Regions from separate parts of the Homo sapiens genome. Here region 1 is linked to region 2. Evidence: fine-mapped expression QTL. A gene starts in region 2. The other region holds a variant in brackets. All regions are shown on one strand. Distances are between the middles of the regions.

Evidence for each region. PIP is the estimated chance that this variant, and not a neighbour inherited with it, causes the effect.
Region 1: its variant is the best candidate, but not a certain one, in a credible set for the expression of RASGRF1 in prefrontal cortex (GTEx, PIP 0.89).

Annotation. Positions count from the first base shown.
Region 1 is chr15:79,031,787-79,034,686 of GRCh38, reverse strand. RASGRF1 (Ras protein specific guanine nucleotide releasing factor 1) reads left to right here. Exons shown (of 27, transcript NM_001145648.3): 7 at 2,371-2,564. Among named protein-coding and RNA genes, the nearest start is that of RASGRF1, 58 kb to the left of the region's middle. The variant G/A (reference allele first, on the strand shown) is at 1,540.
Region 2 is chr15:79,089,037-79,091,936 of GRCh38, reverse strand. RASGRF1 (Ras protein specific guanine nucleotide releasing factor 1) reads left to right here and starts at 1,157. Exons shown (of 27, transcript NM_001145648.3): 1 at 1,157-1,714. The coding sequence starts at 1,439.

The sequences.
Region 1 (2,900 bases), 57 kb after region 2:
TTTTTTCTTTTACTTAGCATTATCCCATAAGCATTTTCTCATGCCAAAAGCATGCTTTTTGATCGCTGTGTAATACTCCAGTACCCATGAAGGCACTGTCATTTATCTAACCATCTGCTATGGTTGGCTCTTAGAGTTGTTCCAATTTTTTATTGTTAGAAGTAATCATCTCTTCATAAGAAATTTTCTCCATATTAGAGATCATTTCCTTGGGATGGGTTTCCAATGAGCAGAATTGCTAAAACAAAGAATCCAAACATGTGAAAAGCTCTTGCTTCATACATATTGTCCCATTGTTCTCCAAGATGGCTGCACTGCTCTAGTTCCACAAGCAACAGACAGAAGAACCTCCTGCATCTCACCCTCAACCTACACCAAATGTCTTTCTTTTTTTTTTTCACTTTCTTAATTTGGTAGATAAAGGTGAGTGTTGGTGTCATCTCCATGATGGAGGCAAAGAAAATGGCTTAGGGAAGTAAAGGAATAGCAAAGGCTGCATAGGTGGAGGGCACAGAGCAGACCCAGGCCTGGCTCTCCAGAGCTCCCTTGCCCTCAGGCATGGAGGCTTCCCAGGGGGAAGTAGGCACTATTATTTTTCTCAAGTCAAAGACCCGTGTTTTTCTCTAAGGTCAAAATAAGGTGTCCTTAGAAAGATGGGGTCCGCATATTCTGCAGTTGCATTGTTGAAGACATTGTCCGTCAGGTGGTCAGACACCCATCACATGAGCTACCCTCTAAAGTTGATTACAAGGAAACCATGTTTCCTTTCTTAAATGGGACTTATAAGAAGATGTTTTGGCCGAGCACGGTGACTCATGCCTTTAATCCCAGCACTGTGGGAGGCTGAGGCAGGCAGATCACCTGAGGTCAAGAGTTCGAGACCAGCCTGGCCAACATGGTGAAACCCCGTCTCTACTAAAATTACAAAAATTAGCCAGGTGTAGTGGTGCACACCTGTAGTTCCAGCTACTCGGGAGGCTGAGGCAGGAGAATTGCTTGAACCCAGGAAGCAGAAGTCGCAGTGAGCCGAGATCTCACTACTGCACTCCACTCCAGCCTGGGCAACAGAACGAGACTCTATCTCAAAAAAAAAAAAAAAAAAAAAGAAAAGAAAAAAGAAGAAGAAGATGTTTCAAGGCCAGGCACAGTGGCTCACGCCTTTAATCCCACCACTTTGGGAGGCCAGGGTAGGCAGATCACTTGAGGGCAGGAGTTCAAGACCATCCTGGCCAACGTGGTAAAACTCTATCTCTACAAAAAACACAAAAATTCAAAAATTAGCTGGGTGTGGTGATGCACACCTGTAGTCCCAGCTACTTGGGAGGCTGAGGTGGGAGAATCACTTGAACACGGGAGGCAGAGGTTACAGTGAGCCGAGACCGCACCACTGCACTCCAGCCTGGGCAACAGAGCAAGATTCCATCAAATAAATAAATAAATAAAGATAAGGAAGATGTTTCACATGACCCCATCCCAGCCTATCAAATCGTTGAAGGGCAGATTTGGGGAGATTGGTTGGGACTTGGGGGCACTGGAAAG[G/A]CAAAGTATATACCCAGGAAGCTTGAGACAGAACTATAGGCAGAAAGGGCCCCACCTGGTGAACTAGATAATGCAGAGCCTGGAAGCCCTGCTTGGACAATGGCAGATGAACGAAGGAGCAGAGACTCATGTGTCATATGGTAGGAAATCCCTGGAATCAGGAGGTCAGGAGACCCAGCCCCAGGCCGGCTGCTGACTTGCCCTGTGACCTCAGATAGGCCACTTCTGTCTCAGGACGGAGACTGCAGGAGGGAGGGTGGCCTCTTGGGGAGTGTCCTAGGCCATAGCACCATAGGGCACGGGGACAGGCAGAGGGAGGAACTGGGCAGCCTTCCAGCTGCAACAGAAGCCTCAGCCGACCCCACAGGAAGCTCTGGAGAAGGGGTGACCTCACACTGGTGTCCTGAATTGAAGCAGGAGGACAGACCAGGCAAGGCAGCTTCCTCCAGCTGAGGGCAATGCCTGGAGAGGGACCCAGCTGACAGCCATCGGCCACCAGCACTCCTGGCAGCTGGGGGGATCCAGGTGGCACCCCACAGCGCCCACTCTACCTCCTCTCTCTGACACTCCCATCACAAGTGTCGACTAGACAGGGCCCCACGTCTCTAAGAGTCTGTGATTCTAATGTGGTCCCAATGATGGGGGCCCACCTACTAGCACTGGATAGGGCAGTGGTACTGGAGTCATCCCCAAGAGCAGAGATGTCTCTGGGGTGGGGAACTTGAACCTGGCCCCTGGCCTCTCTGGGTGTAGCTGGGGGAGCCAAGGGCCTAGGGGATTCTGTCCCCACCAAGCTGCCCTAGCCACCCGCTGACTGCCTCGTCCTTCCAGCTGACCTATTTGACATCCTGCTGCCCATGCTCAACATCTACCAAGAGTTCGTCCGCAACCACCAGTACAGCCTGCAGATCCTGGCCCACTGCAAGCAGAACCGTGACTTCGACAAGCTGCTGAAGCACTACGAGGCCAAGCCTGACTGCGAGGAGAGGACGCTGGAGACCTTCCTCACCTACCCCATGTTCCAGGTGGCGTCCGGCCCTGCCTGGGTGGGGTAGAGTCAGGGAGGCAGGTGTGGGGGATGGACCATGGCGGTGGGGGCACAGTGCTTAACGCACCCCAGCTCTGGGCTGCCAAAGGGGGCGGGGGAGGTGGTCAGGGCCAGCAGCCGACAATGCTGGGTGCAGGGCAAGCTGACTGTGGGCCTGTCCACGCCACCTTTCTCTCCTGGCTCCTGAGCACCCCACCCCACCCTCAGCCAGAGCAGAGCCCTAGACAAGACCCTGGAAGAGCCTCCAAGTTAGAGTCTGTGACCAAAGGGCAGCCTATCTCCTTCCTCAGTTCTGCTCATGGAAGTCCTCTGG
Region 2 (2,900 bases):
GGTGTGTGCTGTGTGTGAGTGTGGGGTGTGTGTGTGTGTGTGTGTGTGTGTGTGTGTGTGTGTGTGTGTCGGGGGAGGGGTATACGCAGTTTCCGTGCGGAAAGATGGTGTCTTTCCTTCACAGGGCTGCGCGGGCACCCATCCCCGCTGCAAAGCGCCCGGGCCAGGCGCGGCTTGCTCCGGGTCGGGGCGAGCTCGCTGCCCTCTGCGGCAGACAGCGATGCGCGCTCCCCGCCCCAGCTCCCGGCTCGCCCGGCGGCCCGCGCGCCCTCCCGGTGCAGCATGCGGGCGCTGTGACGTTCTCGGATAAATGCCGTGTAACTGTGTAGGCGAATGAGAGCTAAAAATAAGAACGGAAAATCTATCATTAAGGTATCATTGCGCCAGCGCAGCTATTTGAAGGCTCCCATGGTCCCCGGCGCCTGCGTTTGAAGCCCGCCTTCAGGCTTTGGGGGGTATTTGCAGAAAACTCCCAGCAGCGGCTCGCCAACCAGACCTCAGGGTGCACGGGGGGTGGCGCCGGTAATTATGGCAACTCTCAAAATAAAATAATATAAAATAAAGTAACCAACGTTCACCAACCACCACCCCATCTCACCCCCTGTACTGTCCTCAGGTAGCTGGGGAAGCCGCCGGGAGTGCAGCCGGATGCTGGAATTCAATGTGACCCGGCTGACTATGCAAAGACTAGGACTGGACGCTTTTGCAGCTCTATTTCGCCACCCACCTTCCTCCTTCCACCTCGTATTAGAAATAAAGTGGGGGGGGGGGGCGAGCCTTTGGAGGAGAAAATGACAACTGGCACTTAACCCCAGGTCTACAGTGCGCCGCGGTGGGGCGCAAAGACGCAAACTCCCGGGATGGCGAGCCTTCGGGGTTTCATTGGGTTAAACGAAAATTGATCTGATTTGCTTTTTAACATCCGAGGGAGAGAAGGGGAGATGAGGGGAGGGAGGGCAGGGTTTGAGTGTGTGCGTGTGCGTGTGCGTGTGTGTGTGTCTGGGGAGGGGGAGGAGGCACCAAGTTGCAGCCTGCGCGCGGCTCTGCGCCTCGGCGGGGCTGCGTGCGTGTGTCCCTGTCCGCGCTGCTGAAACGGGCTCTTCGAGGGATCGGCGTCACATGACTCCGCCTGCCCCTCGCCAGCGCGCAGATCGCCAGTCCCTCAGTTTGCCCGGCACCGGAGGAGGGTCGGGCGGCATCTTCCGGGTACTGGGGCTCTGCGGAGCGGAGAAGAGGTTCCAGCGGGGAATGGTATATCTGGATTCAAGAAGCCGCGGCTCGGCGCCAGATCCTGGAGTGTAGATATTTGGGGGGAGGGGAGAGCTAGAGGGAGCGAGCGAGCGAGCGCCAGAGAGAGGCAGCGCGCAGCGCGCACGGACGGGGGGCTGCTGCGCGGAGAAGATGTAAGCGCGTGGGGTCTCGCTGGCCTCTGAGCACCATGCAGAAGGGGATCCGGCTGAATGATGGCCACGTCGCGTCCCTGGGACTGCTGGCGCGCAAGGACGGCACGCGCAAAGGCTACCTGAGCAAGCGGAGTTCGGACAACACAAAATGGCAAACCAAGTGGTTCGCGCTGCTGCAGAACCTGCTCTTCTACTTCGAGAGCGACTCGAGCTCGCGGCCCTCGGGGCTTTACCTGCTGGAGGGCTGCGTCTGCGACCGCGCGCCCTCCCCCAAGCCGGCGCTGTCGGCCAAGGAGCCGCTGGAGAAACAGGTGAGGCGAGCGTCGCGTCCTGACCTCCCTGCGTCCCGGCCGCGGCCCTGGGGGCTCAGGGCCTTCGGCTGGCTGATGGCGCTTGAACTTTGGCCCCTCTACTCTTGGCGCCCTAGGCGCTCTCTGCACCCTCAGCGAGAGGGGAGGCTTGCTCCCAGCCAGGCGAGTGACTGCGGCGGGCAGAGGGGGCAGGGATTGAGGGCGGGGAGTAGATGTGGGCTGCGGCTGCCCTTCGCCGGACGAGCCCCGTGGGAGGCGGGTACAGAGGGGCCGACACCTGGAGATGCAGAGGAAGATGGGGTCCTAAGGACCAGAGACGATGAGTCTGGACACACGTCCAGCCAAAAATGGTGCTCCCAACCCCCACTCCCACCGCCCAGCCCTAATAGCCCCGATCGTCTGTTCTACACCGGGAACGTGTAATTCCCCGCGCTTAGGCATGGGAAGGGCAAGACGGAGGCGTCCGAGCGCTGCCAGCCCTTGCCTCGCCGCAGCTGAGGGCGGAGAGCGGTCTGCGCTAGCTCCTCGGAGTTGGGCTGGGGTTATGGGGCTACACGGGTCGGTTCGGTACCATCGAGCGGTGGTGGGCTCCCAGCTGGCGGCCGCCGGAGCAACAAGCCCAAAGATTCCCAAGGACCGCTCTGATGCGCCGGGGCTAGGGCCAGGGCTGCTGCGGAGGCAGCGGGACGAAGTGGGCGCTTCTCTCCTCCCCCGCCCCCTGCGCCGCCGCCGCCGCCGCAGTCGCGGCTATAGCGCTGCGCTCTGGTTTCCTGAGCTGCAAGGCTGAAGAGCCAGGCCTGGCTCTAACAGGGAGCCCGGGCGGGGTGGGGGTGAGCCTCTGGCGTGAAGGGAGGAGGGGCACCTGCAGAGAGAGCCACCTTTAAGCTTGGTGCGCTTTCCAAAAGCATCTGGTCCAGTCCCTTGCCACTAGGAAGATAAAGCAGATGATAGTGGATCCTAAAATGCCACTGCAGGCAGGAACCTTCCATCCATAGGGCCTAACGGCTGGTGATTGCCTAGATGGGGACACTGAGGCCCAGAGAGAGAAATTCACTTGCCCAGCGTCATGCAAGTTGTTGAGGCCGTCCCAATGTTCTGAAAAGACAACCGAGATCTCAAAAGCCACTGCTGCATGAAGACACAGACTGGTGGTGATTGAATTGGTTGAAATAAAAGCATCGCTTGA